Linked DNA regions of Homo sapiens: region 2 is linked to region 1. Evidence: fine-mapped expression QTL. A gene starts in region 1. The other region holds a variant in brackets. All regions are shown on one strand. Distances are from middle to middle. Region 1 holds the start of PIK3CB (phosphatidylinositol-4,5-bisphosphate 3-kinase catalytic subunit beta). Region 2 overlaps PIK3CB (phosphatidylinositol-4,5-bisphosphate 3-kinase catalytic subunit beta).

Region 1 (5,530 bases):
ACGCCCAGCTAATTTTTGTATTTTTAGTAGAGACAAAGTTTCACCATATTGGCCAGGCTTGGTCTCAAACTCCCGGCCTCAGGTGATCCACCCGCCTCGGCCTCCCAAAGTGTTGGGATTACAGGTGTGAGCCATCATTCCCAACTTATTGTGTTTTTTCTTTTTCAAAACTTATCACTGTGAGGTCATGCAAAACCTTCAAAATATTTATGTAGGCAAATATTTTTCTTTTTTCTATAATGGTTCTGGGCTTCCTGTCTTGCTTAAAATTTCTGCCTCATTGGCCAGTAATCACATCACTTTTGGGAGGCTGAGGCGGGCAGATCACGAAGTCAAGAGATGGAGACCATCCCGGCCAACACAGGGAAATCCCGTCTCTACTAAAAAACAAAAAATTAGCCGGGCATGGTGGTGCGCGCCTGCAGTCCCAGCTACTTGGGAGGCTGAGGCAGGGGAATCCCTTGAATTCAGGAGGCGGAGGTTGCAGTGAGCCGAGATTGTGCCACTGTACTACAGCCTGACGACAGAGCAAGACTCCGTCTCAAAAAAAGAAAAAAAAAATTAGGCGTGTGTGGTGGCGGGTGCCTGTAATCCCAGCTACTCTGGAGGTTGAGGCAAGAGAACTGCTTGAACCTGGGAGGTGGAGGTTGCCATGAGCTGAGATGGTGCCACTGCACTCCAGCCTGGGCAACAGAATGAGACTGTCTCAAAAAAAAATTTTTTTTTCCTCTTAAGTTTCTGTTTTGTAAATTTTTATATTTTTTAATTCTTCTGGATTTTTTTTTTTTTTCCTAGACAGGGTCTTGCTCTATTTCCCGGGCTGGAGTGCAGTGGTGCTACCGTGCTATCTCGACTCACACCAGCCTCGACTTCCCTCGACTTCCTGGGTTCATATTATCCTCCCACCTCAGTCTCCCAAGTAGCTGGGACAACAGATGCACATCACCACACTCACGTCATTTTTGTCAGTCTCGCCATATTGCCCAGGCTAGGTGTGAACTCCTGGGCTCAAGTGATCTGCCCACCTCGGCCTCCCAAAGTGTTGGTATTACAGCCTCTTCTGGAATTTATTTTTCAATGTTCTTGCTTTAAATCGAAAGTCAATTAAAACCAGGATCATTGGCCGGGCACGGTGGCTCATGTCTGTAATCCCAGCCCTTTGGGAGGCCGAGGCGGGCTGATCACCTGAGGTCGGGAGTTCGAGACCAGCCTGACCAACGTGGAGAAACCCCGTCTCTACTAAAAATACAAAATTAGCCAGGCGTGGTGGCGCATGCCTGTAATCCTCAGGAAGGCTGAGGCAGGAGAATCGCTTGACCGGGGGACGCAGAGTTGCGGTGAGCCAAGATCGCGCCATTGCACTCCAGCCTGGGCAACAGTAGCGAAACTCTCATTCAAAATAAGTAAATAAATAAAAAATAAAAAAACTAGGATCATTTCTCAAATAAACTATTGGTTTGTCACTTAATTGATTTGTCACGTTTGCTTTTTATTATGTTGTACTTCTAGATTTTATCCCTGACTACTCAACTATTTGTCCAGGGTAATATAGGAGCATTACGTTAGAATATACTAGCTTTGGAGTGAGTTAAAATGTTGGTTTTCAGTAAGTAAAATTTAAGTGTCCCACTAGAAAGAGGACTGTGATTTTTCGCGGTTGGGGTCAAAGGTAACAGGAAACAAGGTAGGCAAAAAGGGGTAAAGTTTAAGGCTCTGCAGACAAATGTTAGGTGTTGTTACTGCAAAATTGAACAAAGAACAAGAATCTTGGGCTTGAAAGCCTGGACTTTTCCCTAGAAACAACCATTCACAGTGTAGGGACTGAAGGGCCAGCTGTGAGGCAGCCGAGCTAGCGCCCTATCCTCACAAAGGGAGTGAAAGACGGAGACGGGTATCGGGAAAAAAATAAGTGCTGCGTCCAAGAATTTAGGAGTCAGTCCATGTCGCAGAACAGGGAGAAGGGCTGGGAAGAAAAGGCCAGCAAGGAACCTAGGAAGAGCGGAATCTCTCGGGAGGAGGTTATGGAGGCCGCAGCGGGTGATGGGTCTCTCCTGAAGGCGACTTGCCGGGGATTCCCTATTCCGCAGTCCTCTGGGAGTCGCAAAGAGAGTTAGGAAAGGCCGTGCAGCAGCGTCGCAGCCGGGCTGGCAACGGTAGAGGAATCGGCAGTGAGGCCTCTCCCCACACCCTGCCAGCCCAACTGCCGCCGCCGCCGCCGCCGCCACCGCGGGGCCCGGGATTGGCCCGAGGGCGGCGCAGGGCGGGGCGGGGGCTGCTGGGATGCAGGCCTGAGAGGCTGGCGCGCGCGCACACGGGCGCGGGTTCGGCGGCGGCGCGCGCGTGCTCTGTCGGCCTGTGCGGCGCTGCGGCGGAGCGGGCCATGGCAGTGGGGAGGGGGCGAGTGTAGTGCTGCGCGGGGCAGGCGGGAGGTGATCGAGAGAGGCAGGGATGGGGGCGCCGGAGTGGAGCGGTTGCGGCGGCCTGGGCTGCTGACTGCGCACTTGGAATAGTAGCAGGCGGCGGCGGCGGAACGCCAGGCAGGTGAGTGCGGCGGCCGGGACCCGGATGCGGCGCGGCTGAGGGGCGGCTGGGTCGCGGCGCCGGCTGCGGTGCCCCCGGGCGTGCTGGCGGTGCGTTCTAGCTTGCCGCTACCTGCGGCGCTGGCGACTCTTGTGGTTGCACCGCGCTTCCTGCCAGCTTGGAGGATAACCGCCTACCGGCCGGTGGGGGCGTCTGGCTTGGTTGCGGCCCGCCCTGGGCTCTCCAAGGTGAGTGGCGCCCCCCGGCCCCTGGGCGGCAGAGACGCTGCCGGGCGTCCCGGGTCACTGTCGCTTTGGGTCCCGTTCCTGAGGGGCGTTTCTGTGGAGAGACGGCGTACTCGCGCCCCGCGTCTATGCGGACACCTCCGGAACTTCCCGACCCTCAGGTGCCTTTTTGCGCAGAAGTGTATTTCAGAGGCGTGGACCCAGGGTTATTAGGTTATGGACATGTTTTCGAATCCCAACGCCGCTGCTGACCAGTCCTGGGGCCTTGGGCCAAAATATCCTGATGTGTTAAATGGAAATAATAATACATACACCATAAGGTTGTTGTGAGGTTAGGCATAACTGAACAAGTGCTAAGTAAATGATACCCCTGCTGCAGCATCTCGTGTTAGCTATTGCTAATTCCTGGCTGCTGGCGTGCGTTTGGGGGCACATTTATTTCCGATCTGCTCTGGTGTTGCAGTAACCGATACTGGAGTTGCTTAATATTGGAGCCTGTTAACCTCGCAGTGGCCAAAATAGAATCCTATAGTCCCTTACTAGAATCCTGCAGTCTCTTCCCGCAGGGCTGAATTGGAACCCTGTCTCAGGTACTGAGTGGGAATTACTGCTGAAATGAAACCGAGCAAATTCGGGATTCGCTTAGGATGAAAGATGGTGGGACGTAAACTTGAAGTGCTTTGCTGTTTCATCTCAAGTGACACTTGAACTCTGCCACTTGTTACAGAGTTATAAACACACGAAGAGTATGGAAACAGACTCTTTTTTCTGCATTGCTACATCCAAAGGGAGTGACAAGTGCTTTTGTAAACATCATTGTGGGCAGTGTGACTGTCTGGTGAAGTCATGATAATTAAATGAGTACTTATTTTGAAGCACTGAATGGAAGTTTGGAGATATGATTCGTAATAAAATTGTCTCCAACGAGTCAGAGGTCTCAGCAGTTCATTAATCATTTGGGGATTTTTATGCTACATTGTAAGATTTTATGGTAAAAGCAGAACTGTTTAAGTCATAATAATGTAGCACAGGAAAGGGTGGTCAGATAAGGATCTTAACCCAGTTTCAGAATGCAGGTATGGAAGAAAGTAAAGTCTTTTTTCTGACCAGGTGCGTTGGCTCACGCCTGTAATCCCAGCACTTTGGGAGGCCGAGGCGGGCGGATCAATTGATTCCAGGAGTTCGACACCAGCCCAAGCAACATGGTGAAACCCCGTCTCTACCAAAAACACAAAAATTAGCAGGGCGTGGTGGCGGGCGCTTGTAATCCCAGCTACTTGGGAGGCTGAGGCAGGAGAATCCCTTGAACCCGGGAGGCGGAGGTTGCAGTGAGCCGAGATGGCACCACTGGACTCCAGCCTGGGCAACAGAGGGATACCCTGTCTCAAAAAGAAAAAAAAAAAATCTTTTTGAGACCGAATCTTGCTTCTTTTTTAAAAAAAAATTATTGTTGTTTTTTGAGGCAGGGTCTCGGTCTGTCGCCCAGGCTGGAGTGCAATGTCGCCATCTTGGCTCACTGCAACCTCCGCCTCCTGGGTTCAAGCGATCCTCCTGCCTCAGGCTCCCTAGTGGCTGAGACTACAGGGGCGTGCCACCACGCCTGGCCAATCTTTCAATTTTGTTTTTTTTTTTTTTTTTTTGAGACGGAGTTTCGCTTTTGTTGTCCAGGCTGGAGTGCAATGACGCGATCTCCAGCTCACCGCAACCTCCGCCTCCCGGGTTCAAGCGATTCTCCTGCCATAGCCTCCCGAGTAGTTGGGATTACAGGCATGTGCCACCACACGCGGCTAATTTTGTACTTTTTTTGGTAGAGACGGGGTTTCTCCATGTTGGTCAGGGTGGTCTCGGACTCCCAACCTCAGGTATCCGCCCGCCTCGGCCTCCCAAACTGCTGGGATTACAGGAGGAAGCCACCGCGCCCGGCCCAATCTTTGTATTTTTGGTAGAGAGGTGGTTTTGCCATGTTGGCCAGGCTGGTCTTGATCTCCTGGGCTCAAATGATCCGCCAGCCTGGGCCTCCCAAAATGCTGGGATTACAGGCATGAACCACCGCGACCGGCCGAAAGTAAAAATCTTAAAGGTTTAAACTGGAATTGTATTCACTAAAGCCAAAATGACTTAAGAAGCAAAAATCTAATTTACACCCCTGATTCACACCCTGAGTCCACCACCTTCGGAGTGTTTTTTAGAAGTGTTGAAAATCAAGTCGGGTTTTGATTTGTCATTTTGCACCTCTTGCCTATCTTTCTTGGTGTTCTTAAAGACTCATCCATAAAGGCTTTTGCTTCAACTTGCTTTGTGAATGTCAGCCAACTATATGGAAAAAAGTGAAAAATGAACACTGTAGTCTAAATTATGTTCTTTCTTGAGGTTTTCCCAGTTGTCTAGCTTAGACTGTTGAACTCAACAGTAGAACTACTGCTAGCCACTGTGAAAAGGCTGGGAGTCAGAAGTCACCTCTTGGTTTTAGGCCTCAACCTGGGTAAAAACAGCTGGGGCTATGGGGATGTTACCCAGTCTTATGGGCCTCTGTTTTGTTTGTTTGTTTGTTTTGAGATGGAGTCTCTCTCTGTCGCCAGGCTGGAGTGCAATGGCACGATCTCTGCTCACTGTGACCTCCCGGGTTCAAGCGATTCTCCTGCCTCAGCCTCCAAATTAGTTGGGACTACAGGTGCACACCACCATGCCCCGCTAATTTTTGTATTTTTAGTAAACATGGGGTTTCACCATATTGGCCAGGATGGTCTCAGTCTTTTGACCTCGTG
Region 2 (5,000 bases), 160 kb after region 1:
TTCCCTGGTTTCTCATGAGAAATCAGCTGTTAATCTTATTTAAGATCCTTGTAAGTGATGAGTCACATCTCTCTTGTTCCTTTCAAGATTCTCTTTATTTTTGGTTCTTGACAGTTCGATTATAATATGCCTACTTCTATTAGAGTTTATTCTACTTTGAATTAATTGAGCATCCTGGACATATATATTATTGTTTTTCATAAAATTTGGGGAGTTTCCAGCCATAATTTTTTCATATATTTTTTCTGCCTCTCTCTCTCATCTCCTTCTTAAACGCCATTATGCATTTATTGCTTTGCTTGGTGGTGTTCTACAGGTCTCTAAGGCTCTGTTCTTTTTTCTTCATTATTTTTTCTTTTGTTTCTCTGATTGGATAATTGACCTATCCACAAGTTTGCCAATTTTTTATTATGCTCATATCTGCTGTTGTGTCTACCTGGTGAATTTTAAAATTTCAGTTATTGCCCTTTTCAACTCTGGAATTTCTGTTTGATTCATTTAAATAATATCTATCTATTGATAGTCTTCCTTTGTTGATACATCATTCTCACAGTTGTTTTGTTTTGTTTTGTTTTGAGATAGGGTCTTGTGCTGTCGCCCAGGCTGGAGTGCAGTGGCGCGGTCTCGGCTCACTGACACCTCCACCTCCCAGGTTCAAACGATTCTCCACCTCAGCCTCCCAAGTAGCTGGGATAATGACAAGCGGCCACTACAACTCCTGGCTAATTTTTGTACTTTTAGTGGAGACAGGGTTTCATCACGTTGGCCAGGCTGGTCTTGAACTCCTGACCTCAGGTGATCCACCTGCCTTGGCCTCCCAAAGTGCTGGGATTACAGGTGTGAGCCACCGCCCCCAACCTTATAGTTCTTTAAACATGGTTTCCTTTAGTTCTTTGAACATGTTTAAAATAGGGATTTTTAAATCTTTGTGTAATAAGTTGAAAATTTGATTTTCCTGAAGGACGGTTTCATTGAATGCATTTTTCCTGTATGTGTGCCATGCTTTTTTGTTTCTTTGTATGTCACATACTTTTTGCCAAAAACTGTTCACTTTAAATAATTTTACAACTCTGAAACTCAGATTCCTTCTCCCTTCAGGATTTGTCGTTGTGGCTGTTTGTTTATTTTAGTGACTTTTTTGAACTAATTATGTAAAGTTTATATTTTTTGTCATGTGTGGTCACTGATGTCTTTACTTAGTTTATTGGTCAGCTAATGGTTGACCTGATTTTCTTAAATGCCTGGAATCCACCCCTCTTCCAGTCTGCTGAGGCACTTTATGCACATGTTGGGTCATGCCTTCAACAGTCAGCCTGGTGGTTCAGAACTGTGCCTTAGCCCTAACTTTCTGCTTTCACAAAGCCTCAAAGTTAGCCATAGTTGAGAGCCAGGGCTTTGTAAGCTCTTTCCTTTGCATGTACACAGACCTGGGAATCCACAATAGTATCCATGCACACGGCCTTCTAGATTCCTACCAGTAATTTTGGAGCTTTTCAGTGCACCATATGGACATGTAATTACCTACCTTTTCCTTTTAAGCTTTCAGTTAGCTTGTTGGTTCCCCCAACTGTTATTTACCCCCAAGACAGCTACAATGTTAAACAGATGCCTCTGAGTATTTTTGAGAAACTCCCCAGGAAAAAGGCAGTTCATGCTAGGTGAGGTCTGAGTCAGGTCAAATAAACATAGTATTGTAAGTGGGATCTTCCTGGAAACTACCAGAGAGGCCAAAGAATGACAGTTCTGTGGGAATCAGGCTTTGAAGGAGCTCCAACTTCATTTTTCTTTCCTCTAGTGGCTGTCAGACATGCATTCACCATGATTGTGGGCTATTTGTTGTCAAGGCTACCACATAACTGGGAAGGGGGTTGGGACTAGGCCATGGTAAAACAAAACAGATTCACGTTGGGGTGTGTGTGTGTGTATGTGTGTGTGTACGTGTGTGTGTGTTTTAAATAAACACTTATTGGATTGCTGCAAGCCTTTGTTTTATTTTCAGAACTCTAAAATAGTTGATTTCAACAATTTTTGTCAGTATTCTTGTTGCTTTTATGGAGAAGTAGATATTCAGAGTTTGATATCATTTGGCTATAGAAGTTTGAAATCCAAATTGACTGCTTTCCTCAGAAGCCTTGAGGATATTATTCATTTGTCTTCTAGTCTCGGTTTTTAAAAAGTCTGTTCTCGGTCTGGTTATCGGTTCTTTGTAAGTAATGTCTTTTTTACACCTTAGTGCATCAAAAAGTTTCTCTTTGCCTTTGTCTGCAGTACAATCTGTGCGTGTGTATTTCTTTTATTTCTTTTTTTTATCACCATTTTCATTGTGCCTTTTCAAAGAAGTCACATCTTTTAGTTTCTGAAAACTTTGAACATTTCCTTCAGTATTGCAGTTCTCCCACTCTCATTGTCTTTTTCTGCAGCTCTAGTAGATTTATATTAAACTTTCCTGTTCTCTCCTTTATGTCTCTTAACCTTCCATATTTTCTATCTTTTCATATCTTATCATTATAACAGTTTTACTCAAGTCTCTGTGTGCTCTGGCGTTGAGACCAGGCTGAGTCTTTTCATATCTTTATGTGACTTTCTTAGTAATTTCCTATTCTTTTCCAGTTCATTATCTCTGCAACAATGTTTACTCTCCTGTATTGTATTTTTTTTCTGCTTAGACTTTCTATTCTTTTTCATCTCT[T/C]TCTCTCTCTCTCTTTTTTTTTTTTTTTTTTTTCAACGGAGTCTCACTCTGTCACCCAGGCTGGAGTGCAGTGGCACGATCTTGGCTAACTGCAATCTCCACCTCCCAGGTTCAAGCGATTCTCCTGCCTCAGCCTCCCCAGTAGCTGGGATTACAGGAACCCACCACCACGCCCGGCTAATTTTTGTATTTTTAGTAGAGGCAGGGTTTCACCATGTTGGCCAGGCTGGTCTTGAACTGTTGACCTCAGGTGATCCGCCTGGCTCCATCTCCCAGGTCAAAGTGCTGGGATTACAGGCGTGAGCCACCACGCCCAGCCTAAAGTCTCTTTCAGATTGTTCTTTTTTAGTTCTTGGGATATTACTTTTTCATTTATCTGCGTGACTTTATTCATTTCCTTATATAGTTAATAATACTCAGTTTTGAATTCATTATTGATGGATAATTATGTTTTCTGTAAAGGTCCTTTGCTCCCTGGGTTGTGAATGGATCTCTAAAAATGAGTTTGTATTTTGTTTGAGCTGTTGCCAAAGGCCTGTACACACAATCAGCCAGTTTTTATGTTAACTCCCTGCCTTCAGACCATCACACCTCATAGATAGTTTATATTTAGATCTCATAAGAGAGTGTGGGAAGGCTTGAAGTTTTGCACTTACATGAAACTTTTTTTTTTTCTTGCCTACCCAGTTTCTGGGGTAGATGGGAAACTTTCATGCCACATCATCTGATCAATGAAAAGATATTTCGAGTTCCAGTCCTCCCAGACCTCAGTTTTGTGTAGTGTGGGATATGATGAGGTTCCTCTTCAAATAATCTGATCAATCTTTTGTTCGTTAATTTATAGAACCCCCCCACTTTTTTTCTCCTTTTTCTCCTTTTTTTTCCTTTTTGCCTTTGTTAGATCCCCAGGCACACCACAGTACCAAGCGTTATCAGTACCAGCTCACATTCCTTTCCTTATTTAGAAAGAGGACTAACTTTCTAGCTCATTACAGACACCCCTTCCCCTTTCTCTCCACTTTTTCTTCATGTGCCCACCCTATCTAAAAAAATTCAGATGTTTAGCCAACCAGGATTAGTTTAGATTGTACAACCCAACCCCAGCCAATGGGGAAAGAATGCAGAGGCAGGACTTGCGTCAGGAATAAAGGCTGTCGTGCCCCTTTGTTCAGGTGTGCTCTCATGGCAACTGGCCAAGGAGGCACCCCTCTACGCAGAAGTAAAATTGCTTTGCTAAGAATCCTTTGTTCAAGTGTTCAGTTTCCTTAGGATTTTGAGTGTTATTCCTAACAGTTCTTTGTCGGGTCCAGATCCTACCTCATGGGCCTAAGTCCGTGACTGTTTTTGGTGGGCATTGAAATGTCAGCCAAGTCTAACTTCCTGAGCCACTGCTGTGAGAAATCTCTATTTTTGGAACCTAGAGGTCTTTTTTTCTTTCTTTTTTAACCACACCTATTTATAAAACCTTTGGACTTCATCATTTTTTTAATGTGATTTAGTATCTGCAACAACCTTAGTCTACAAGGTTGCTGGAAACGGTTAGACGTGTGATCGACTTTGTTCCTGCAAGATTATAATATCTCCTGATTAATTTCTTAAGTTTCAGTTATAGTCTGTTATTATGAAACATATGTGTATATATATTTTTAAAACTTGCAACCCTTGCTGTTTATTGACTGAACCAGGCATTGTATTAAGTTCTTCTCGTAAGTAATATCGTATAGGCTTACATATCTATGGGGCTATGTTATTTCTTTTTAACACATTAAAAATTAAAATGCTAGAGGTTTTAAACAAAGGTTACAGAAATATTAAATGGCAGAGCTAAATTCAAATCCAGGACTGTCAGACTCTAAATTAATGCCTGTTTATTATTTTACCAGTCTGGCTAAGTGAGAAAATAATGTGGTAAGACATGTCTAGTACTACTCTTTGTTTATCAGAGTATAATGGTGCCTAAAATACCTAAATTTCCTTTTTTTTAAAAAAAGAAATAATTTTTTATTTTTAGGTTTTTCCAAGTTACACTTTCCAGTAGTGTAAAGGTAGAAAGAGCAATTTGGGATTGTAGCTGTGATTAGAATAAAGAAAAGAGATCATAATTCATCTAAAAAGGACACTGTGGCTACTACAGGTGACAGATTTTTTTCTTTTAAATTAGGAGGAATTTCTAATGCAGCTGTGTAAAAATAGAATTAGTAGCTTTGAATAGGTAGCTAGTTTTTCAAACACTCATAAGGTATACTGCATAGATAAGAGGAATAGGTCATTAGAATAAACTGTCTGCTTGAGGACCATAAACCCAGTTGGA

The links.
Region 2: its variant is fine-mapped to the expression of PIK3CB in whole blood (TOPMed, PIP above 0.99).

The regions. Positions count from the first base shown.
Region 1 is chr3:138,831,706-138,837,235 of GRCh38, reverse strand. PIK3CB (phosphatidylinositol-4,5-bisphosphate 3-kinase catalytic subunit beta) reads left to right here and starts at 2,308. Exons shown (of 24, transcript NM_006219.3): 1 at 2,308-2,541. RefSeq lists a silencer at 2,072-2,811.
Region 2 is chr3:138,670,633-138,675,632 of GRCh38, reverse strand. All of the region lies in intron 19 of PIK3CB (phosphatidylinositol-4,5-bisphosphate 3-kinase catalytic subunit beta), which reads left to right. Among named protein-coding and RNA genes, the nearest start is that of FAIM, 64 kb to the right of the region's middle. The variant T/C (reference allele first, on the strand shown) is at 2,690.